3 separate regions of the Homo sapiens genome follow, and all the other regions are linked to region 2. The links come from fine-mapping of genetic effects on gene expression. A gene starts in region 2. Each other region holds a variant in brackets. All regions are shown on one strand. Distances are between the middles of the regions.

Region 1 (8,174 bases), 110 kb after region 2:
CGAAAACGAGATCGGCGGGGACTCAGGGGTGGAGCCTCGAGGAGATGCGGTGGGCGGGACCCAAGGGACGGGGGTTCTCAAGTAGCTGAGGTGGGCGGTGACATGGGTGGAGCCTCGGGGACCTGAGGTGGGCGGGAACATGGGAGGAGCCTCGAGGAACGAAGGTGGGTAGAGACACGGGAGGAGTCTCCAGGAGCTGCGGTGGGCGGGGACACAGGGGAGGTTCCTCAAAGATCGTTTTTTGTTTTGTTTTGTTTTTTTTGAGGCGGAGTCTCGCTTGTCGCCCAGGCTGGAGTGCAGTGGCGCCGTCTTGGCTCACTGCAAGCTCCGCCTCCCGGGTTCACGCCATTCTCCTGCTTCAGCCTCCCCAATAGCTGGGACTACAGGCGCCCGCCACCACGCCTGGCTATTTTTTTGTATTTTTAGTAGAGACGGGGTTTCACCGTGTTAGCCAGGATGGCCTCGATCTCCTGGCCTCGTGATCCGCCCGCCTCGGCCTCCCAAAGTGCTAGGATTACAGGCGTGAGCCACCGCGCCCGGCCTAGATCTTAACCGGAAGGCGACAAGGCTGGGGTCTCCAAGAGCAGAGGAGGGAGTGCCCCGAAGGCAGTGACCTGAGCAAGGGAGGGACAGAATAAGGAACTTTTTAGTTCTGGGCTGCTGGGAGGCAGGTCCAGGCCTGGTGAAACTGAGGTGGGCGGGGCTTAGGAGAGGAGTGGTCCTGGAGGCACCACGTGGGGCAGAGTAGGGTGGGCAGTGCCTTGGGGGGCCAGTGTCTGGAGGAGCCCAGGTAGAGGTTGGGGACCTGACCAGGAAAGGGCCAAGATAGCCAATAAAGGAAGGGGATAAAGGCGGGGCTCTGGAGGACACGACCAAATTTCACCAAATGGAGGGTGCAATAAAATTTGGTGACCTGGGTGGGTCTGGAGCCACGGGCATGGTCTCAGTGGGGCGAGATAGGTGAGTCCTGTCCCACCTATCTCGTGGGGGTAGGTGGGGACCTGTTGAAGCCTAGCCCCTACCCATTCCCCTCCTCTGCCCCTCCAGGAGAGAGGTGTCCTCACTGACCGCCCGGTGGCATCAGGAGGAGGGGGCGGTGCAGGAAGCCCTGCGGCTGCTCGGGGGCCTGGGCGGCAGGGTCGACGGCTTCCTAGGCCAGTGGGAGCGGGCACAGCGCGAACAGGCACAGACGGCGCGGGACTTGCAGGAGCTGCGAGGTCGGGCGGATGAGCTGTGCACCATGTGAGGATTGGGGCCAGTGCATGGGAAGACCGGAAGGGGCAGGGCAATCCCAACCTGAGGGCGGGGTCTTGAGGGAAATGGGTAGGCCAATCAGCTATGGCCAGGCATTCCGGAACATATACCGACATCGGGAAACACCAATTAGAGAGCAGGAAGGGTTGCATCAGCCCTAATAAGGCCTGAGGGGTGGAATCAATTAGAGAAGGGGTGTGGTCTATACCTTAAAAGGGCAAAGGGTGGGGTCAAGTGGGATCCGAGAAAATCAATTAAGAGAACTAGGAGGGGCATTCCAAACAGTAATCTACAAAAGGTGGCCCAGTGAGGTGGCTCACATCTATAATCCCAGCACATTGGGAGGCCGACGTGGGCGGATTACTTGAGGCCAGGAGTGCAAGACAAGCCTGGGCCACATAGCGGAGACCCCATCTCTACAAACAATTTAAAAATTAGCTGGGAGTGGTGTGGTGTCGCACCCTGGTAGTCCTAGCCACTCGGGAGGCTGAGGCAGGAGTGATCGCTTGAGCCCAGGAGTTCAAAGCTTCAGAGAGCTATGATGGTGCTGCTGCACTCCAGCCTGGGCCACAGAGCCAGACCCTGGCTCAAAATAGTCAACAGATAAATAACATAACATAAAGTAAAATACAAAAAGTGAGGCCAGTCAGAGCAGAGAGGGGAGGGCAGGGTGGAGAATTGCTGACCAGATGGAGACGCAAGTGGTGGGCTAATAATGGGTGGAGTCTTGCCAGGGTTATACCGCTGAAGAGACGACCCAGCAGCACTGGTTACTCATGCCTCAGGGTGGAGCGGTCAGCAGTGTCTGTGGCTTCACTGAGGAGCGAACTGGAGGGGCTGGGCCCACTGAAACCCATTCTGGAGGAGTTCGGGCGGCAATTTCAGAACTCTCGAAGAGGGCCTGACCTCTCCATGAACCTGGATCGGTCCCACCAAGGCAACTGTGCCCGCTGTGCCAGGTAACGGGGCTGGGCTTGCCTCTGGGAGCCTTGTGGATAGGACATTAAAGGAGATGCGGAAGGAGATGGGACATTAGTGAAGGGTGGGGCGCTGTTCATTTTGGGAGACAAGGTATCCCAGTGCATTGTAGAAACAGCCGGTCCTGCTGCACTAGAAGCCTCATTTGTTCCCACTCTACAAGGTAGAATCAGTGTCTTGTGGAACTCAAGAGAAACTTGGTACAGGCCGGGCGCGGTGGCTCTCGCCTGTAATCCCAGCACTTCGGGAGACCAAGGTGGGCGGATCACTTGGTGTCAGGAGTTCGAGACTAGCCTGGCCAACGTGGTGAAACCCCGTATCTACTAAAAATACAAAAATTAGCTGGGCGTGGTGGCGCGTGCCTGTAATCCCAGCTACTCAGGAAGTTGGGGCATGAAATTCACTTGGACCAGGCTGGGCGCGGTGGCTCATGCCTGTAATCCCAGCACTTTGGGAGGCCAAGGCAGGCAGATCACAAGGTCAGGAGATCAAGAGCATCCTGGCTAACATGGTGAAACACCGTCTCTACTAAAAATACAAAAAAAAATTAGCTGGGCGTGGTGGCGGGTGCCTGTAGTCCCAGCTACTAGGAAGGCTGAGGCAGGAGAATGGCGTAAATCCGGGAGGTGGAGCTTGCAGTGAGCTGAGATCATGCCACTGCACTCCAGCCTGGGAGACAGAGTGAGACTCCATCTCAAAAAAAAAAAAAAAAAAAAAAGAAATTCACTTGGACCCGGGAGGCGGAGGTTGCAGTGAGCCGAGATCACGCTACTGCACTCCAGCCTAGTAGGTAGAGTGAAACTGTGTCTCAATAAAATAAAAATAAAATAAAAAGGGTGGACGCAGTGGCTCACACCTGTTATCCCAGCACTTTGGGAGGCCAAGACGGGCAGATCACTGAGGTCGGGAGTTTGAGACCAGCCTGGCCAACATGGTGAGACCCCATCTCTACTAAAAATACAAAAATTAGCTGGGTGTGGTGGTGAGCACCTGTAATCCCAGCTACTTGGGAGGCTGAGGCCAAAGAATCTCTTGAACCTGGGAAGTGGAGGGTGCAGTGAGCCAAGATCGTGCCATTTCACTCCAGCCTGGGCGACAGCAAGACT[C/A]CATCTCAAAAAAAAAAAAACACTTAGTACATTTTAAGCATCATATTTCCAGTGCATTGTGGGAAGGCTGGGATGTGAACATGAGGAGAGGCAGGGTTTCAGTGCACTGAGGGGGAAGTGAGACCTTGGTGTATTGTGAGAGCCGAGGGATACACCATTTTTGGCCCATTGTGGGAAGGTCCATTGTAGGAAAGGGGGACTCACAGTACAACATGAAATCGAGTTTCACTAGTGTATTATGGGAAATGTTAGTTCTTGACGGCCTTTGCAAACTGAGGGCTGTCTGGTGCCCTTAGGAATAGTGACTCTGGCTGGGCGTGGTGGCTTACGCCTGTAATCCCAGCACTTTGGGAGGCCAAGTGGGAGGATCACCGGAGGTCAGGAGTTTAAGACCGGCCTGGCCAACATGGTGAAACCCCATATCTACTAAAAACACAAAAATTAGCTAGGCGTGCTGGCGGGTGCCTGTAATACCTGCTACTCAGGAGGCTGAGGCAGGAGAATCGCTGAACTCAGGAGGCAGAGGTTGCAGTGAGCCAAGATGGTGCCACTGCACTCCAGCCTGGGTGACAGAGCGAGACTCCATCTCAAAAAAAAAAAAAAAAAAAAGGGCCGGGCCCGGTGGCTCATGCCTGTAATCCCAGCACTTTGGGAGGCCGAGGTGGGCAGATCACGAGGTCAGGAGATCAAGACCATCCTGGCCAACATGGTGAAACCCCGTCTCTACTAAAAATACAAAAATTAGCCGGATGTGGCGGCACATGCCTGTAGTCCCAACTACTTGGGAGGCTGACGCAGGAGAATTGTTTGAACCCGGTAGGTGAAGGTTGCAGTGAGCCAAGATTGCGCCACTGCACTCCAGCCTGGGTAACAGAGCCAGACTCCGTCTCAAAAAAAAAAGGAGTAGTGATCCCCAGAGCACCATGGAAACCAAGGGACAGCTGGTGCACAGTGCATGCTGGGAAGGTTGCATAGGGTGCATACTGGAAACGAGGCCAAATGGAGGCTCCACAGGTGAGCATGGGGCATGGGGCGTCCTGGAGTTGGTACTGGGCCTCTTTATCTGGTGACCGCCCCTCCCCCAGCCAGGGGTCGCAGTTGTCTACGGAGTCCCTGCAGCAGCTGCTGGACCGAGCACTGACCTCACTAGTGGACGAGGTGAAGCAGAGGGGCCTGACTCCTGCCTGTCCCAGCTGTCAGAGGCTACACAAGAAGATTCTGGTACCAGGGAATATGGGCCACCATGTCCCACTTTACTTTTCTGTTGGGGCAAGGGGAGGGGAACCCCGGACTCAAGGGTACTGCTGGTGTGTGGCAGAAGGGGAAGGGCTGAGCTGGGAGCAGCAGGCACTGGGGGAGGACTTGGCCCTAATGCATGGGGAGATGGACAAGCAGTTTGGTGGTGAGTGAGTCACAGGCCAATCATTACGCTACCTCGGAAGATGGACTTGGGCCTAAAGCATGATAGGACGTTGGATCTAGTGCATTGTGGGACACGAGACAGACACCAGTCTAAAGCTTCATGGAACATAGGCCTGATTTTCTCTAAACTTTTAGAGAGGCGGTGCATTGTACAAGATCATTGGGGTCAGCTATATTGAGGTAAAATAGGAGACCCAGTGACTGTAGGCCCCAGTTAGCTGATGCGTTATGGGAAATGGAACCACAGCTCTTCCTGGGGCATTGCACAACACACTCAGCCCAATAGTTGGTGGAACTTGAGCCCTAGTGCACTGTATTATGGGATATTGACCTAATGTACTATAGGATTATGTTGTAGTGGGTGAGACAGACAAGTGAGGCACTGTGGGACATTGATGTGGCCGAGCTATAGGACTAATACATGAGAGGAAATGGGGCTTGGTGCAGTTGTACGTAGAGAACCAGGGCACTAAGGACTGTTTTTTGTTTGTTTGTTTGTTTGTTTTGAGATGGAGTCTCGCTCTGTCGCCCAGGCTGGAGTGCAGTGGCGCAATCTCGGCTCACTGCAAGCTCTGCCTCCTGGGTTCACGCTATTCTCCTGCCTCAGCCTCCCAAGTAGCTGGGACTACAGGCGCCTGCCACCATACCTGGCTAATTTTTTGTGTTTTCAGTGGAGACAGGGTTTCACCGTGTTAGTCAGGATGATCTCGATCTCCTGATCTCGTGATCCGCCTGCCTCAGCCTCCCAAAGTACTGGGATTACAGGCGTGAGCCACTGCGCCCGGCCTTTTTTTTTTTGGAGACAGAGTCTCGCTCTGTTGCTCCAGGCTGGAGTGCAGTGGCGCCATCTTGGCTCGTTGCAACCTCCACCTCCCAGGTTCAAACGATTCTCGTGTCTCAGCCTCCTGAGCAGCCAGGATTACAGGCATACACCACCACGCCCAGCTAATATTTGTAGTTTTAGTAGAGATGGGGTTTCACCCTGTTGGCCAGGCTGGTCTCGAACTCTTGACCTTAAGTGATCCACCCGTGTCGACCTCCCAAAGTGCTGGGATTACAGGCGTGAGCCACTGCGCCCGGCCAGGACTTTTGTGTGAGAGGTGCTGGTCTAATGGATAAGGAGATGTGGGGTCTTCCAAATTATGGAATGTAGGAGGTCACCATGTGGTAGAATACTGGGGTGCACACACATATCAAATGTAGGATAGTTCATGAGCTTAGGAGACAGACGATAGGCACTGATTTAGTGCTTGCTGGGACATAGGTCAGTGCATCATGGGACAGACAATAGGACAGACACAGATTTAGTCCACAGCGGAATCTGGAGACCAGTGCATTGTGGGATGCTGGGGTCAGTCTCAAGCTCAAGGCATGATGGGAAACTCTGAGGGAGAAATGTGGGCCCCATGGGACCCTACCCTTTGCCCTCCGCAATCCAGTTCCCCCTCCACCCCCAGCCCAGTCCAGCAAGCCCAGCTACGCCTACGCTCCTCTCCCCAGGAGCTGGAGCGCCAGGCCTTAGCCAAACACGTCAGGGCAGAGGCCCTGAGCTCCACCCTTCGGCTGGCCCAAGACGAGGCCCTGCGGGCCAAGAACCTACTGCTGACAGACAAGATGAAGCCAGAGTGAGGAAGGAGGCTGAGGGCATGGGAGGAGGGTGAGATCTTGGGGAAAGGGCCTGATCTCCCCTTCCACTCCAACACCCCAGCACCTAGCCATGCCGCCATCAACTCCCCGCTGCCTCATGACAGGGAGAAGATGGCCACTCTGGACCATCTACACTTGAAGATGTGCTCCCTCCACGATCATCTCAGCAACCTGCCACTTGAGGGGTCCACGGGAACAATGGGGGGAGGCAGCAGTGCAGGAACCCCCCCAAAACAGGGGGGCTCAGCCCCTGAACAATAAATGGCCTCTCATGCTAGCATGAATTCTGTCTGCTTTTTGGGACCAGAGTCCTAGTGAATTGCACACACACCATGCACTCCCTCTATGCCCAATGTGATTTATTTATTTTAATTAATTAATTAACTTTATTATTCTTTTTGAGACAGATTCTCACTCTGTCGTCCAGGCTGAAGTGCGTGTGATCTCGGCTCACTGCAACCTCCACATCCTGGGTTCAAGCAATTCTCCTGTCTCAGCCTCCCGAGTAGCTGGGATTACATTCGCACACCATCATGCCTGGCTAAGTTTTTGTATTTTCAGTAGAAACAAGGTTTCCCCATGTTGCCCAGGCTGGTCTCAAACTCCTGAGCTCAGGCAATCTGTCTGCCTTGGCCTCCCAAAGTGCTAGGATTACAGGTGTGAACCACCACACCCAGCCCACTGTGATTTATTTAATTTTCAGCAAACAGGATGTCGTGGTCCCCACAGAGGTGCTGGTGGTGGTACAGTTCTTTGAGATGGCAATGGTGGTAGAAACAAGGTTCTGTGGTATAGTATAGGTCTGTCAAGTCAACATTTTTTAGGCTGATTATTACTAGATAACTATATTAGTTGTCTATTGTTGTGTAAAAATACCCCATAAGTTAGTTGCTTAAGATAACAAATGTATCTCAACTTCTGAAGGTCAGAAATACAATCAGTTAACCTCACTCCTGGGGTTAGGTCCTGGCTGAGATCCTCATGAAGTTAGAGTCAAGATGTCAGCCAGGACCAGAGGCGGTGGCTCACACCCATAATCCCAGCACTTTGGGAGGCTGAGGCGAGTGGATCACTTGAGACCAGCAGTTTGAGGCCAGCCTGGCCAACATGGTGAAACCCTGTCTCTATTAAAAATACAAAAATTAGCCAGGCACACACCTGTAGTCCCAGCTACTCGGGAGGCTGAGGCACAAGAATCGCTTGAACCCGGGAGGCAGAGGTTGCAGTGAGCTGAGATCGCGCCATTGTACTCCAGACTGGGTGACAGTGAGACTCCGTCTCAAAAAAAAAAAACAAAAAACACAAACAACAAAAAAAAAACATTGAAAAATTGAGACAGTGTCTCACTATGTTGCCCAGGCTTGTTTGGAACTCCTAGACTCAAGGGATCCTCCTGCCTTGGCCTCCCAAAGTGCTGGATTACAGGCATGAGCCACTGTGCCCAGCCGGACAATGTTTTTTTTTATACCCAGGGCTTTTCACCCATAGATTTAATACCCCTCCCCCGCCAGTACACCTCTGAGCTCAGAGGGAAAGCACAGAGTTATGATATTTCCCTCCATAAAAGACAGAATAGGGAATTGGCAGTTCCTCAAAGTAAAAATACCCTCTCTAACAGACAGAATATACCTGGAAATACCCTCTGTGTCTGGCAGAATAGCCAATTTCTTCAGGTGAAAATGAGGCAATAGGCCGGGCACAGTGGCTCATGCCTGTAATCCCGACACTTTGGGAGGCCAAGGCAGGCAGATCACTGGAGGTTAGGAG
Region 2 (8,174 bases):
TCACGTAGGCTTGGCAGGGCAGGGTCCGCTTCAGCTTTGCAGTGGAGTCAGAGTAGGGTCTGCGCTTCTGTGGGGGCAGGAGGGGCGTCACTGTGCACAGCCTAGATGCCCTGGCCTGTCCCCGCAGGGACAAGACAAGACCCTGGAGGCCAGCCGCAGCCCCACAGAGACTCACCTCCTGCCACTCGAGGACGCCGCTCCAAGCCAGCAGCTTGTTGCTGAGCCGGTGCTCGCTCACGGCCAGACCCCCGAGGGTGAGCCCAGGTGAGGAGGGACCGATGGGACCCAGTGCCCCGAAGACCCGAGCACCTTCCTGCAATGGAGTGGGGGATAGGTGGGAAAACTGAGGCCGGGGCCTGCAAGGACAGGCAGTCCCCACACACCCCAGAGGGGACGTCCCAATATTCAGCCCCAAATCCCCTGCTGGAAGCCCACGGGGCCATGTCCAAACCCTCTGCTCACCCCTCAGGACCCCCACACGCTGGTCCTCATGTCCTTTCCCGCTGCCCACCCTCAGGACCCTTCCTTCCCAGAGCCTGCTGTCACCTTGACACTGGCCCAGCAGAGTCCTGAAGCCTTCAGCCAGCCCCACCTCCAGCCTTTGCCCCAGCTGTGCGCCTGATCGATTCTTGAGACCCAAGTTAGAAGCCAGCTGTAGGGGGCTTTCCCCGTGCCCCAGGCTGGGCCCAGGGCTTCCTTGCAGCCTCCACAGGCACAAGCCGGCTTGCGCTGTGTCTGTCCCACACACCAGCTTGCCCTGTCTTTCCCAGGCTGAAACTCTCCTAAAGCTCCCTGTCATCCCAAAGTTCAATTCCTTCCTCTGGCTCAGGCCAGTGCCCACCTCTCTGGCCTTATAAGTCTGACCCCGGGGGGAGGCAGGAAGGAGATGACAAGAAACACAGAGGGGACTAAACCATCCAGGAGAAAGACAGCGAGGAAAAGGGGGAAACATTTGGAAGACAGCTGGGACACCACCCCCAGAGGGGTCTCACAGACCAAAACATGTAGAACACCAAGAGAAAGTTCTAGCAATAAAGCCAAGCAACGCCACAAATGCTACTCACAGGCACTCTCCCCACTATTTTTATTACTATTTTTTTTTTGAGACAGAGTTTCACTCATTTCCCAGACTGGAGTGCAGTGGTGCGATCTCAGCTCACTGCAACCTCGCTCACTGCAAGCCGCGCCATCATGCCCGGCTAATTTTTTTTTTTTTTTTTTTTTTAGTAGAGATGGGGTTTCACCATGTTGGCCAGACTGGTCTCGAACTCCTGACCTCAAGTGATCCGCCCGCCTCGGCCTCCCAAAGTGCTGGGATTACAGACGAGGGCCACCAAGCCTGACCTCACTTATTGTTTTTTAAAACCAAAAACATCTCAAAGCAAACAAGGGAAAGCTCCGCAAACAGCCTGGCAGCAGGAAACCCACGAGAGTTTCCCCGTAATAGGCGCCTCCAGGCGGGGGAAAACAAATTATAAGGGTGATTTATTTTTATCTTATTACAAACAGGTATTTTCCAAATTTTCTATGAAGCACAAGGAGATCTTTCCTTCCAGAATACTAGCAAACACAAAAAATTTTATTTTGTGAGTGCTTAAAAAGAGAAAAACCTGAACAAACTTGCTCTCCACCCACGCAGGTGATTCTCCACCCACGCAGGTGATTCTTCACCCACGCAGGTGATTCTGACTTTTGGGCAGTCGTCAGAAGATCAGATAGAAAACCTGAGTATCTTGGCGTTAGAATGAGTTGGACAGAGAGTGGATGTTGCCCCGGGGGCTTCAGGCACCATACCGGACATCCAGCATCTGAGATGAGTTAAAACGCACAGCTGGAGGTGACTTTCGAGATGAGGGTACACTTACAACATACAAGTTGTTTATGGCGCTGGGACCTGAGGTATCTAGTCCGCATATACAGTGACACGTATGCATTTACTGCCACAAAGATGGGTAAAAGTCAGGAGAACGCACTTAAGAGCCCAAGCGACATACTTAATGTCTGCTTGTCTAGGAGAGCAGGTTGACTCAGGACTTCAAATATGCTGGGATCTGGAGCCATAGTAAAGAACACATATGCTTGCCTAAAACCCAGGGATACCTTCCACAGCAGGAGCAGCACATCAAGATGGGACGATCATATTTAAAAACGACGGTTAAGGTGCAACCTAAAGTAAATCTCACATCTTGGCAATCGTGTGCAAAACTGCGCGCCTGACATCCCTATTGCACAGGGAAGCCCATCTAGTACTTGCACTGAGGTTTAAAACCTTGGGGTGCATGTCTGAGGACCCGGAAAGCACTTTTGAACAACTAGATGCGAATGCTGCAGGAAGGGGCGAAGGCAGTGGAGTGAAGGGGTACGTTTAAGTTGTGGGAGGTGATCTAAGTCTCGGTATCCATGTTTATGACCCCAGGAAGCCTGTTTAAGGTTTCAGTAGGGCTGCCACAGCTCTGTGCCATCCACACCGCTGAGGCAGTGTATTTAAGAAGCGGACCCGAGCGCGAACCCAGGGGAAATCTCACATCGGGGCAAGCGTGTGCACGGTGCAAAGTCGCGATGTGCGGTTTTACAGCCCCAGGTAAACCTTACGGTTTCTGAAAAGCATGTGCATCTTTTGGGTCCGGAGAAGCGTGTGCAGCCCAAAGTACCTGCGAAGCTGAATGTTTACGTTTAAGGTCTGGGCTCACGGCAGTCCATCAAAGCATCCCACATGTGGGCGCGGGCGCGTATTCTAGGTGCGCACTCCACGGGCACGGAGCGGCCGCCAGGGGAGAACGCCCACGGGTGCGACATCTGGGGGCGCTGGTACAAAGCGCGGGCCCCTCCCTCGCCGCTGTCCCCCAAAACCGCCCCCATTTCCAGGTTTCCTGCCCGGAGAGCGAGCAACTCTCCAATAGGAAAAACAAGCGAGCGTGCCGGCTGCCTGTCTGCCGCCCCCAGCCCGCGTTTAAATCGGGCCGCGGAGTCAGCAGTAATATGAGCCCGCCCCGCCCCCGTCCCCCAACCCCCCACCCCGGCCCGAACGCGCAACAAAGGGGAGAGCGCGGCGCGAACCACCGGGTGCTCCACGGGGGAACCCGGCCCCGGGCGGGACCACCCTTCGGGCCACAGGGGACACCCCGGAGCGGCGGGGGCTGCGGACAAAGGCGTGAGCCCGGGATAGGGGCTGGGGGGGCGGGGCCGTGGAAGGCTCTGGAAAAAGGGCGGGGGGCTCACCATGGGAGGGGCCGAGCGGGCCCGGATCCGCGGAGGCTGCGGGCCTCGGGGGCTGGCAGGCCAGGAGCGCGAGCGGACGGCGCGCACCACGAGGGGCCGCGGAGGGCGGCCGCGACCCCCGAGGGGGCCCCCGGCGCCGGAGCGGTACGGGGCACGGCGCGGACGGACCATGGCGGGCGCGGGCCGAGCGGGCGGGGAGCTGCCGCGGGCCACAAGGGGGGCTGCGGGCTCCACCGACTGAGGGGCGCGGGCGCGGGCGCGCGGCTTCGGGGGAGACGGGCTGAGCCGTACCAAGCTCGGGGGACGCGCCGCCGGAGTGGGGTCGCCGCGGCCGAACCACTGAGGCGAGCGGGGGAGCCCGGCGCGTACCAAGCGCGTCCGAGGGGGCGTGGCCGGAGCGTACCAAGGCGGCGCGGGGGAGCGGGGCCCGGGCGGGAGCGGAGTGTGGGCTCGGCGGTCCTGCGGGCCTCTCCGGCGCGGGGGAGTCCTGGGAAGACGCGCGAGCCACAACTTCAGGGGGCGTGGCGGGAACGGGAGCCCCTACCGAATGGGGTGGCAGAAGAACGAAGGCGACACCAAGCTGGCCCCTTGCGGGGGTCGGGACGGCGGGAGACCTCATCCGGAGCCCTGGGCCCGCAGAGCCAGGAGACCGCGCCAAAATACATCAGGGAAGAGGGGAGGACGGAATAATGGGCCTGGGGACAAAGGAACCCACTGAAAGGGAACCCACTGAGGGTACGGATTGCACCCGAGCCTGAGACAGCTGAAGGTTTGCAGTCGGTGACGTGGCGAGGTGGGCAAGGGACTCCAACTCCCAGCGGGCCCCGCGCGGCCTGGGCGGGGCCAGCTGTCCCTGGAGGCTCCGCCCATTAGCCCCGGCGCCCAGGCTCCGCCCGCCGTCCCTGGCGACTCCAAGCTTCTCGCCACTCACGTCGCTCCCCGGCCTTCCGTGGATTCGCTCATTCGCTCTGCTAAAATGGAATGACTACTTACTAGTAGTTGTATAAGATTTTTCCCTCGATTTTTGTTCCTTAAACGTGGGTAATACCTAACCCTAGAGTGGTTATGGGGATCGAGCCCGAGGGGCTGTGCTTGACTGCTTGGCGCAGTCACTACTCAAATGTTAGCTTTTCTTTAAAAACAACAACAAAAATCTGTTATGAGTACCCTGTCCAGTTCTGTGCTCGGCGACGACCGAATCAGACCACGTCCCTCACAGGCCCCACGGTCCACTGGGGAGAGACATAATCACAGGCTGTGCTAAGTGTTAACTAGCGCACATCCACAGGGCGATGGGATATGACCATAGCGAGGTAAAGTTAGCAAGCAAGGGAAGTCAAGAAAACGACCTGTGAGCAACCTGCCATTCCAGATGGCTGGAAAAGTGTGCAAAGAGGACAGAACAGCAAAGACAAATCCTGAAAGTAGAAGGAATAAAAGGGAGCCAGTGTGGGCGGAGTCGAGTGAAGGTAGAGAGGAGAAATAGACACAGCTGTAGGAGGTTAGAGACGGAGTCCCTACTTCTGTTTCGGATGTTGACTAAACAATGTAGATAGATATTGATGTCATAGCCTGGAGAGAGAAATTCGGGAGTCATCAGTGTTTGAATGGAGACTGGATGAGCTCACAAAGAGACTGGGACACTCATCCCTTTAGCAGTCACGACAATGAGAAGCAACCAGCAAAGGACACGGAGGAGTGGCCAGTGAAATGGCAGAAGAACCCGTAGGCCTGTCCATGTTTTCCTGCCCAGGGGCTCCCGAGGGCTGACTGGAGCCCAGCCTTAAACCCCAAATCCAACCTGCATTGTGGCCAAACGGAGTCAGTGCTCCCTGAACACAAACTGCAAGTTAGTTATCAACAGGTACCTCCAATGCCCTGTCAATCACCCATGTGAGGACAACCTGGCAGCAGGAAGGAGAAAAAACAGGAGCTGCTTTAATCTCCCGGAATCCTCACTTCTCCCCATTCTTGTTGGTCCAAACCATCAAGATCTCTTGCCTGGGTGACGTCTCCTAACTCTTGCTGCCTTCTCTGTCACTACAATAATCAAAACCATCCAATGGCTTCCCAGTGCCTTTAGAATTAAATCCAAACTTGGTACTGTGGCCCCTGCTGCCGCCCCCCAAAAAATCTCTCTCCCATCCTTCCTGTTCTCTACCTGTTAATGCCTTCCCATCCCTCAGAACCCATCAGGACACACGTGAGTTTGAATGCCCTGAATTGTATAAGCATGGAGAGCGGTATACCAGGGTGTACTCCAGAGTGAGCAAAATGGGAACTCATGTCAGAAAGTGAAATGAAAATGTAGGCTGAAATTCTATCAGTAATACTGCAACAAAACTCTCTGAAACCATCTCACTTAACTCGGTCCACCAACTTGAAAGACACTTTCCTTTTCATCTGTGAAGCCCACTGCTGGGGCTAGCAGGCTACTATTATGACTAAGCAATTCCACTTCCATCTCTCAAGCTGTTTACTTCCTGAAAGGTAGCTGTTTGATCCAAACCTGTTTATGCCAGAAGTTCTTGTTTAATTTACTATCAAACTAATGAAATTAATGCAAGACAGTTGTTTATACACAAACCAGATTGCTTGCTTTGGAAAGACTAAAAGGGAGTTGTTAAAAGAAAAACATGCCAGGCGTGGTGGCTCACACCTGTAATTCTGCACTTTGGGAAGCCGAGGTGGGCAGATCACTTCAGGTCAGGAGTTCAAGACCAGTCTGGCCAACATGGTGAAACACCGTCTCCACTAAAAATACAAAAGTTAACCGGGCATGGTGGTGTATGCCTGTAGTCCCAGCTACTCTGGAGGCTAAGGCAGGAGAATCGATTGAACCCAGGGGGTGGAGGTTGCAGTGAGCTGAGATCTCACCACTGCAACTCCAGCCTGAGCAACAAAGCAAGACTCCATCTCTTAAAAAAAAAAAAATGCTGCCAAGTTAGGTACAAGTAAAGCAACTGTAAATTATTTAATGAAAAAGCTTATAAAAACCTAGGAAGACTCAGCCCCCAGTTTGTTTCATAAATGTCTTTAGGTTCTCAAGCCACTTAAAAAAATGACTCATTGTGGTTTGTGGGTGGAGCTTATACAAGAATGTGATGTTCTACTGGGCGCAGTGGCTCATGCCCGTAATCCCAACACATTGGGAGGCTGAGGTGGGAAGATTGCTTGAGCCCAGGAGCTCGAGACCAGCCTGGGCAACACAGTGAGACTCCCACCTCTACAAAAACAACAATAATTTTCTAGGCATGGTGGCATGCACCTGTGGTCCCAGCTACTCAGGAGGCTGAGGTGGGAGGATCTCTTGAGTCCAGGAGATTGAGGCTGTAGTGAGCCGTGTTCACACCACTGCACTTCAGTCCAAGTGACAAAGTGAGACCCTGTCTCAAAAACAAGAATGTAATGTCGTGTGCTAACTAGGAGACCAATACTGAAAGAAAGGGTCTTGGTCCTACGTACAAGAGATGTCTGTTTAAATGTTCTTGGTTAAAATAAGATGTTTAAAGTGTTAAGATGGCCGTTAGTGCTATTTGCCATATATTTCTAGCTCCACACTTGGCCAGCATTTGACCCCATTTAGCTTGAGTGCGGCCATGTGATTAATTTTGGCCAGTAAGGTGTGAGGCCATGTGATTACATCTGGCCAATGAGATATGAGCAGAAGTGACACATGTGAATTCAGCAAGAGCACATAATTGCTAATGGAAGACCAGACCCCTCTGCCTTTACTATGTCCATTGGCAACCTTCATGATCTGTCCGCACGGGCTCCAAGCTGACACTCAATACAGCACGAGTGACAAAATCCACCTTGGCTGTTTCAAGCCACTGCAATCTGGGGGTAATCTGGCCTTTCCTGATATACACAATTTTTTTTTCCCAAATAATCCCAGTTTAACCAACATTTGTTAAACCAATCAACTACCAAGTCTGAGTTTCCTAGAAGAACAAACTGGCAGTACATATAGGTTGGATGACATAGGCTAGGACACAATGACAACATGGACAAAGTGTTTTATACTGGCCGGGCACGGTGGCTCATGCCTGTAATCCTAGCACTTTGGGAGGCTGAGGCAGGTGGATCACCTGTTGTCAGGAGACCAGCCTGGCCAACCTGGTGAAACCCCATCTCTACTAAAAATACAAAAATTAGCCAGACGTGGTGGCAGGCGCCTGCAATCCCAGCTACTCAGGAATACAAATACAGTCTCCTGATTGATCCTCCAATTCAAGCAGGAGAATTGCTTAAACCCGGGGAGGCGGAGGTTGCAGTGAGCTGCACTCCAATCTGGGCGACAGAGCGACATTCTGTCTCAAAAAATGCTAATAGGCTGGGTGCGGTGGCTCACACCTGTAATCCCAGCACTTTGGGAGGCTGAGGCGGGCAAATCATGAGGTCAGGAGTTCAAGACCAGCCTGGCCAACATGGTGAAACCATGTCTGTACTAAAAATACAAAAAATTAGCTGGGCATGGTAGTGGGTGCCTGTAATCCCAGCTACTTGGGAAGCTGAGGCAGGAGAATCACTTGAACCCAGGAGGCGGAGGTTGCATTGAGCTGAGATTGTGCCACTGCACTCCAGCCCAGGTAACAGTGTGAGACTCCGTCTCAAAACAAACAAATAAAAAAGATAATAAAATGCTTTATGCTAAGAAATGGGAGTAAGATCATCTCTGGCTTGGATTTTTCTTTTCTTTCTTTGCAATTACAAAATAGTTTATGGCTGATTTTTTTTTTAAAGGTCTGCCTGATACATGCTTTGCAAACTCTAGGTATTTCAACTTTGTCATCATCGTGTGTGTCCAGACGCAGAGGCTCACACCTGTAGTTTCAACACTTTGGGAGGCTGAGGTTGGAGCATTGCTTGAGCCCAGGAGTTTGAGACCAGCCTGGGCAACATAGCAAGACCCCATCTCTACAACTATAAAACTAGCCAGGCGTGGTGTTACA
Region 3 (8,174 bases), 34 kb after region 2:
CAGGAAAAGTCTTGATAATACTATCTAAAGTGCTCTTGGAGACTCTCCCAGCACTCCCTCAACATAGAGAGAAGAAAAAACAAATTTTCCTTTGTTTTATGGAATGAGTTTATAGATTCCTGTTCTCTGTAACTCATGACTTCAAGTATTCTGTTTTATCTAAGAAGTACAGCGAAGGTCATGAGAAGCCTGAGCTGCCTGGGCACCACAGTGAAGGTTATGGGATAAGCCCGTGCCTAGGCTAACCTAGATAAGGGACATCTGGGTTGCATAGCAACGGTTATGTGCAATCCTGAGTTATAAACCTGTTACAACAATTTGATTAACTGTTTTTGTTCTGCCTCTGTATCCCTGCTGTCACGCCACTGTAAGCTTGCTTCAAGCTAGCCCACCCCCTTTTGTGAAGTGTGTATAAAAGTCAAGTGCTACCTTTGTTCTGGGCCGTCTTTGGACGTGAGTCGGCTTGGGCCTGAGTGCACTCAATGAAAGATTCTCCTGCTTTAACCCGAGGGCTCTCTCCTGTCGTCCTGAATCCCGCAACAGTGGCTCACCCCTATAATCCCAGCACTTTGGGAGGCTGAGGCAGGCAGATCACATGAGGTCAGGAGTTTGAGACCAGCCTGGCCAACACAGTGAAACTGTCTCTACTAAAAATACAAAAAAAAAAAAAAAAATTAGCTGGGCATAGTGGCGTGTGCCTGTAATCCCAGCTACTTGGGAGGCTGAGGCAGAAGAATCGCTTCAACCCAGGAGGTACAGGTTGCAGTGAGCCACGACTGTGCCACTGCACTACAAGCCTGGGAGACAGAGCAAGACACTGTTTCAAAAAAAAAAAAAAAAATTCTGACCCAAGCCACAGAGGGATCTATCCTGGCTCTGACCCATCCCCCTGCACTGAGGCTACAATGTACCCATCTGGAAAAGGAGGACAGGGGTAGACGGAAAAAGAGAGGACAGAAAGGGGACAATCACACAGGGAGTACAAGGTGGCTGCTGGAGCTCAGCCAGGCCTCCCTGAATGGGAAGGTTTTTCCTACTTCTAAACTGATGGCAACATTGCTGAGCACACAGAAGCCACCACAAAAGTGACTTCTGACAAAAACACAATCACCCTCAAAGTCCTTTCAATCCCTTAATGTATGAGATGTTTCCTGCAGCTCAAACCCAAGCCATCGCTCATTCACGGCCCCTCGCAGGGACCCCAACCACCCCAAGCCATTACTTATTCACAGCCCCTCACGGGGACACCAACCACCCCAAGCCATCACTTATTCACAGCCTCTCACGGGGACACCAACCACCCCAAGCCATCACTCATTCACGGCCCCTCACAGGGACCAGCAACCCACCCCAAGTGGGGGAAAGCTCACTTAATGCCATCGAGCCAGGTGACAAACTCATAGGCGCTGCTGGTGGGAGCGTGACATTGTACGTAGGACTCGGGAGCGCAGTCCACTGTGTTGAACACCACGAGGCTGTACTGGGTCCCCCCATACTGGGAGGGGAGGACAGAAAACTTTTAATCTGGGACCTCAATTCCCTTTTCCCTTAGAGAAGGAATCAGGGCTCCCAGCTTCCCGTTCCTCCAGAACCAGGAACTCCTCAGCTTCCTCCTTCCTCAGACCCAGCAATCTCGGCCCCAGCCCCTTCTCCCTCAGACCCAGGAATCCAGGCCCCCGGCCCCTCCTCCCTCAGACCCAGGAGCCCAGGCCCCAGCACCTCCTCCCTCAGACCCAGGAATCCAGGCCTCAGCTCCTCCTTTCTCAGACCCAGCAGTCCAGACGCCCAGCCCTTCCTCCCTCAGACCCAGGGATCTGGGCCCCTAGCTCCCTCCTCCCTCGGACCCAGGAATCCGGGCCCCAGCGCCTCCACCCTCAGACCCAGGAGTCCAGGCCCCCAGGCCCTCCTCCCTCAGAACAAGGAGTCCAGACCCCCAGCCCCTCCTCCCTCAAACTCAGGAGTCCAGGCCCAGCCCTTTCTCCCTCCCTCAGACCCAGGAGTCCAGGCCCCCGGCCCCTCCTCCCTCAGGCCCAGGAGTCCCTAGACTCACGTCTCCCCCGAAGTCCGTCTCAGCAGGAGGACCACCATTAAAATACCTGTGAGGGTAGGAAGTGAAAGGTCGGAGTCAGGCAAGAAACTGTGCGAAACTGAAGTGGGAGGGCGGGGTTAGAGTCGCGGAAACAGCACTCACTCGATGGCCGGGAGCAGGTAGTGCTTGCGGAGCCCCTCGAAGTAGGGTCCCAGGTTGGCCGTACCCTCAATCACAAACACCACGTCGGCCACCACGCTCCCGGCGCGGGCCGGGCCCTCGGACCCGGGGACCATACCCCGTGCGGTACCCGCCACCACCACTGCAGCCGCAGCCGACGCCGCGGAATGAGCAGAAATGCGCCTGCGCCGCGCGCGCGCTCGCGTCGGGCGGTTTAGGGCTGCTGGGAATGCTGCCATGTTTGTGCGGGGCACGCGCTGAGGCTTCGTTCTAGCTCCATCCTCCTTCGCCCCCACCGCGTGGAAGACTCAGAAAGGGCATAGTTAGCCCTTCTAGGGGCCTGATGGGTTAGACGGAATTATTGTCAAAAGCTAAATAAATTGAAAGCGGCTCAGTCAGCCGCCATCTTTGAGCGGGGCGTCCAGGTCCGCCTCTTGTCTCAAAGGGAGGGGCAGGAGACCTGGTTGCTATGCAACGCGTACGCTGCCCTTGTTTTCGTTTTTGTGTTTTGTTTTTTGTTTGTTTGTTTTTTCGAAACGGGAGTCTCGCCCTGTCGCCCAGGCTGGAGTGCAGTGGCGCGATCTCGGCTCACTACAACCTCCGCTTCCCGGGTTCAAGCGATTCTCCTGCCTCAGCCTCCCGAGTAGCTGGGATTACAGGTGCCCGCAACCACGCCCCGCTAATTTTTGTATTTTTAGTAGAGAAAGAGTTTCACCCTGTGGGCCAGGCTGTTCTCGAACTCCTGACCTCAAGTGATTCGCCCGCCTTGGCTTCCCAAAGTGCTGAGATTACAGGCGTGAGCCACCGCGCCGGGCCCGCTGCCCTTGTTTTGTAACCGTTAGATTAAGTTTCTGGTTCTGTTCTTTCGGGCGTGGGGACTAGGGGAGGGACGCGAGAAGGATCCAATCACATCGGCGGAAACGAGGTTACTAGGCGACGCTTTAAGGTCGTCCTCAACTTGGAAGGGAGGGCAGTTGTTTTCCCCCCCGAAAAGAAGCCGAACACCAAACCAAGTGCGGGTTGCTAAGCAACACCTGAGCGTTGTTTTCTGGGAGAGGAGCCAGAAACTGGCTTAGAACGTAAATACATTCCAGGTGGATTAAAAATGTAAGTGCAACAAATGAAACCCGAAAACTATCTGAAGGGAAAAAATCTTAATGACTGCCATGGAGTTTCTTAGCACTACAGCAAAGTTAGAAAACGTAGTCTTCATTAATTTTTCCCAAAAGACTGTATAAACCAAGTTGAAAAATATACGGCCAACTGGGAAAATCTTTCTAGCGTGTTTGTTGACAGAAATGTACTACGCAAATAAATCTTACTGATGAATAACAATATAGAAAAATAGAAACACTTCATTACTATTATCTTTTAATTTTAATTTTTATTTTTTGAGGCAGGGTCTCTTTCTGTTGTGCAGGTTGAAGTGCAGTGGCCCAATCTTGGCTCACGGCAGCCTCTACTCGCACTGGAGCCACTCTTCAGCCTGTGGAGCAGCTGGGACCACAGCCGCGCACTACCACTTCCAGCTAATTTTTAAATTTTTTGTAGAGATGGGGTCTCACTGTGTTGCTCTGGCGTGTCTCAAACTCCTCGGCTAAAGCGATCCCAGGTGTTAGCCATCGTGCCCTGCCACTTTATATTTGTTTTAATAGAAAGAAACCTGACCAGGGCCGGACGCCGTGGCTCACGCTTGTAATCCCAGCACTTTGGGAGGCCAAGGCGGGCAGATCACCCGAGGTAAGGGGTTCAAGACCAGCCTGGCCAACATGGTGAAACTCCTTCTAACTACTAAAAATAAAAAAATTAGCCGTCCTGGTGGGCGTCTGTAATCCCAGCTACTTGGGAGGCTGAGTCAGGAGATTCTCCTGAACCCGGGAGGCGGAGGTTGCAGTCAACTGAGATTGTGCCACTGCATTCCAGCCTGGGCGGCAGAGTTAGACTCCGTCTCAAAAAAAATAAAAATAAATAAATAAAAAGAAACCTGACTAGTTTCACACAAACACACACACAAAATTTTGAATGGCCAGTAAATATTTTAAAACATAATCTTCGGCCGGGCGAGATGGCTCATGCCTGTAATTCCAGCACTTTGGGAGGTAGAGGCGGGCGCATCACGAGGTCAGTATCACTGGGCGTCGTGGTGCCCACCTGTAATCCCAGCAACTCGAGAGGCTGAGGCAAGGAGAATCGCTTGAACCCGGGAGGCAGAGGTTGCAGTGAGCCGAGATCACGCCACTGCACTCCAGCCTGGGCGACAGAGCGAGACTGTCTCAAAAAAAAAACAAAAAAAACAAAAAAAACAGGCCGGGCGCAGTGGCTCATGCTTGCAATCCCAGCACTTTGGGAGGCCAAGGCGGGCAGATCACGAGGTCAGGAGATCGAGACCATCCTTGCTAACACGGTGAAACCCCGTCTCTACTGAAAATCCAAAAAAAAAAAAAAAAAAATTAGCGGGGCGTGGTGGCGGGCGCCTGTAGTCCCAGCTACTCCGGAGGCTGAGGCAGGAGAATGGCGTGAACCCGGAAGGCGGAGCTTGCAGTGAACAGAGATCGCGCCACTGCACTCCAGCCTGGGGGACGGAGCGAG[G/A]CGCTGTCTCAAAAAAAAAAAAGTAATAATAATAATAATAATCACCAATTGAAAAGTACTTACAGAAAGCCTAATGATAAAGGTTTTTACCTTTATCATTTAAAATTATTTTTTATTGGGTTTCTATTTTTCTTTTATCTTTTATTTTTATTTTTATTTTTTTTTATTTTATTATTTTTTTTTTGACAAAATCTCGCTCTGTCGCCCAGACTGGAGTGCAGTGGCGCAGTGTCGGCTCGCTGCAGCCTCTGCCTCCCTGGTTCCACCGATTCTCCTGCCTCTGCCTCCCCAGTAGCTGGGACTACAGGTGTGTGCCACCTCGCAGGCAAATTTTTGTATTTTTGTTAGAGACAGGGTTTTACCATGTTGGCCAGGCTGGTCTCAAACTCCTGACCTCAGGTGATCCACCCGTTTTGGCCTCCTAGAGTGCCCGGATTATAGGCAGTGAGCCTGCGGAAGCCCTTTTTTTTTTGAGACAGTCTCATTTGCTGAAGCTTTTTTTTTTTTTTTTTTTTTGAGATGGAGTTTTGTTCTTGTTGCCCAGGCTGCAGTGCAATGGCACAGTCTCGGCTCACGGCAGCCTCCACCTCCTGGGTTCAAGCGATTATCCTGCCTCAGCCTCCCGAGTAGCTGAGTTTACAGGCATGCGCCACCACGCCCAGCTAATTTTGTATTTTTAGTAGAGCCGGGGTTTCTCCATGTTGGTCAGGCTGGTCTCGAACTCCAGACCTCAGGTGACCCGCCCACCTTGGCCTCCCAAAGTGCTGGGATTACAGGCGTAAGCCGCCGCGCCTGGCCTGCTGAAGCCTTCAAATCCATACAATCATATGATTTTACTCCTGTGTGCTTGGCAGGCATCTTTCCAATTTTATGAACACTTTCTTACATTACTAGTATGCCATTGTTACCTGTAACAAAATTAACTTCTTAGTATCATCCAACAGTAAGTGTGTAATCAAACGTTCCAATTGTCTCAAAATGTGTTTTTACAGTTGGTTTATTTGTATCAGGATCCAAACAAAGACCACACACATATTTAGACATTATGTCTCAAGTTTCTTTTCATCTAGAGCAGCCCCCTCTTTTATGCCTGTGTAACTAACATTTTAATAAAGTTGTAAGGAAGATAAAAGTAATCCAGAGAAAGGAAAAAAAATATCAATAGGCAAGAAGGAAGATTAAAATGGTACCTAGGCCAGGCATGGTGGCTCCTGCCTGTAGTCCCAGCACTTTGAGAGGCTGAGGTGGGTGGATCATTTGAGCCAAAGAGTTTGAGACCAGCTTGGGCAACATGGCGACACCCTGTCTCCACAAAAACTACAAAAATTAGCTGGACGTGGTGGGGGCACACCTGTAATCCCAGCTACTCAGGAGGCTGAGGCAGGAGAATCGCTTGAATCCTGGAGGCGGAGGTTGCAGTTAGCCGAGATGGTTCCACTGCACTCCACCTTGGGCGACAGAACGAGACCCTGTCCCCTCTCCCAAAAAAAAAAAAAAGAGAAAAAGATGTACTTTAGGAAGTAGGAAAATTAAAAATTATGCTAGAAAGATGGGCTGATCTGCAAGAAGGAAGAGGAAGGGAAAAATGAATCATAAATACTTTTGTCATTACAAGTAAATGCTGCCTGTGTAAAATAATAAAAATATTCATAAGGGCATTTTAAAAAGTCAGTAAAATGCTGTCCCAGCACTAGTTGGCTAGTCTGGAGGAGTTCAACAACCTAATGTACATCAATACAGAATTGGTCAAATCAATTTGTCACATCCATAAAATAGATTATAAAAATACATTATTAAGATGAAATAGACATACTTTTTCATGGCAAAAAAGAAAGTGTGGAAATGTTAGTATATTGATCATCTTTGTGAAAACGTATGAATAGTCTACGTTAAACTGTATTTTAGGAAAAAAATTGGGGAAGGGATTTTTCACATTTTACATGGTATGCTATCATGTATAAATTCATTACAGAAATGATATTATTTTTATTATTCTGGAAAATAAAGGATTTCCTTGTTTTCTTTTTTCTAATAACAAAAACAACCTTTTTTTTAGTGGTTACTAGGCAACGATCGCTGGACTCAACCACCCTCGAAGGTTGTAGGGGAGATGGTGTTTTTCTCGATTTCGCCCCAAGGAGGGTGCTCGGACTTCGACGTGCCGCCATCTTTGAGCAGGGCACAGCTGTTTACAGCCTTGGAATGGATATCAGGCTGAATGGTGGTTGCTTGGCAACGCCCCGCCACGGTCGCCATCTTTGAGTAGGGCACATTGTTTACTACTATATACTGGAAACCTACAGGGAATGTGGTTGCTAGGCAATGCTTTGGGACCATCGCAATCTTTGATCCGGGCACAGCTGTTTTTTCCGTTTAGAATGTAAATCATCAAAGCCTACAGGATGGTGGCTAGGCAACGCCTTGGCGCAGTCATCATCTTCAATCCGGCTTCTTGGTTCTCTTTACCTCCTCGGAGAAACTAGAAAGCTTTGCAAATTCAATTTGCCGCCATCTTTGTTAGGGGTACCGTGACTTCCGGCTAGGGCGGAAGAGAACCTAATGGGTTTGGGGGAGGTGCCTGAATAGGGTTTGAGGGTCTGTTTGAGTTGGGTGAAGAAGGCGGGAAGTTAATCCTCTTCCAATCAGCTCCCCATCTCGCCCTCTGGCGGCTCCGGACCACAGGCCGAGTTACTCTGATTACCGCCATGCTCCAAGACCCGCACTGACAGTCCCCACGTGAGGGACCGCGGTGGGAGTCCTAAATGGGGGAGGAGGGGACGGGCGGCACTGTGCATCTGCTGTGCCTCGCGGCCTCCAGCGGGGTCCCCCTATTCTGCAGGAGCAGTCGCGGCGGCGCCCCCGCCCGTCAGCAGGTGGGGCCTTGGACGCCTGTATCTAAACCGAAGGGGGTTCGGTGTTTTGACTCTGGGTCTTCAAGGCAGTAGGGGCTGGGGAAGTTTCAGTGTTGAATTTGTAGGACCGAGGAGGCAATGGACCAATAAGCCTGGTTCCCCAAAGAGGCACTGCCAGGTCATATGGAAAGAGGATGGGGCTGGGAGCTGGCACACTTGGGTCCTAAGGGGGAAGGGGATGGGGGGGTGCTCTTGTCTGATGTCCCTAACCCCTCCTTAGCTCCCGTTCTCTGTCATCGGTTCCCTCAATGGAGTCCACATGTTTGGGCAGAATCTGGAGGTGCAGCTGAGCTCTGCGAGGACCGAGAACACGACTGTGGTGTGGAAAAGCTTCCATGACAGGTCCCCAGGAGGGAACGTGGGACAGGGACAGGGCCTGGGTGATAGTCCCTGTTGAAGATGACCCCGGAGGCCTTCCAGCTCTCTAAAAGCAGCTGTTAATTTGGCTATGGGATCTTTAGCAA

Which allele goes with the higher level. Alleles are on the strand shown, and positions count from the first base shown. SD is a standard deviation of normalised expression in the study named. Not every link is listed here.
As copies of A replace C in region 1, the expression in subcutaneous fat of the gene that starts at base 3,560 in region 2 goes down (large effect, 0.87 SD a copy in FUSION).

Evidence for each region. PIP is the estimated chance that this variant, and not a neighbour inherited with it, causes the effect.
Region 1: its variant is fine-mapped to the expression of PTOV1 in subcutaneous fat (FUSION, PIP 0.95).
Region 3: its variant is fine-mapped to the expression of PTOV1 in whole blood (TOPMed, PIP above 0.99).

Annotation. Positions count from the first base shown.
Region 1 is chr19:49,738,270-49,746,443 of GRCh38, reverse strand. It overlaps TSKS (testis specific serine kinase substrate), which reads left to right. Exons shown (of 11, transcript NM_021733.2): 7 at 1,048-1,242; 8 at 2,040-2,213; 9 at 4,424-4,559; 10 at 6,261-6,385; 11 at 6,512-6,684. The coding sequence ends at 6,668. Among named protein-coding and RNA genes, the nearest start is that of TSKS, 21 kb to the left of the region's middle. RefSeq lists enhancers at 1-276, 4,878-5,172. The variant C/A (reference allele first, on the strand shown) is at 3,339.
Region 2 is chr19:49,846,545-49,854,718 of GRCh38, reverse strand. It overlaps PTOV1 (PTOV1 extended AT-hook containing adaptor protein), which reads right to left and starts at 3,560. Exons shown (of 12, transcript NM_001394010.1): 1 at 3,220-3,560; 2 at 176-313; 3 at 1-67. The coding sequence starts at 3,390. PTOV1-AS1 (PTOV1 antisense RNA 1) reads left to right here and starts at 3,043. Exons shown (of 4, transcript NR_040037.1): 1 at 3,043-3,151; 2 at 7,966-7,996. It overlaps MIR4749 (microRNA 4749), which reads right to left and starts at 128; the gene lies at 68-128. RefSeq lists enhancers at 721-780, 3,752-3,861, 5,663-5,742 and silencers at 3,362-3,651, 4,092-4,171.
Region 3 is chr19:49,812,493-49,820,666 of GRCh38, reverse strand. It overlaps FUZ (fuzzy planar cell polarity protein), which reads left to right and starts at 7,375. Exons shown (of 11, transcript NM_025129.5): 1 at 7,375-7,671; 2 at 7,931-8,052. The coding sequence starts at 7,561. It overlaps MED25 (mediator complex subunit 25), which reads right to left and starts at 2,378. Exons shown (of 18, transcript NM_030973.4): 1 at 2,192-2,378; 2 at 2,051-2,096; 3 at 1,371-1,495. The coding sequence starts at 2,325. RefSeq lists silencers at 2,170-2,329, 2,256-2,422 and enhancers at 2,460-2,819, 6,812-6,861, 7,072-7,311, 6,698-7,504. The variant G/A (reference allele first, on the strand shown) is at 4,799.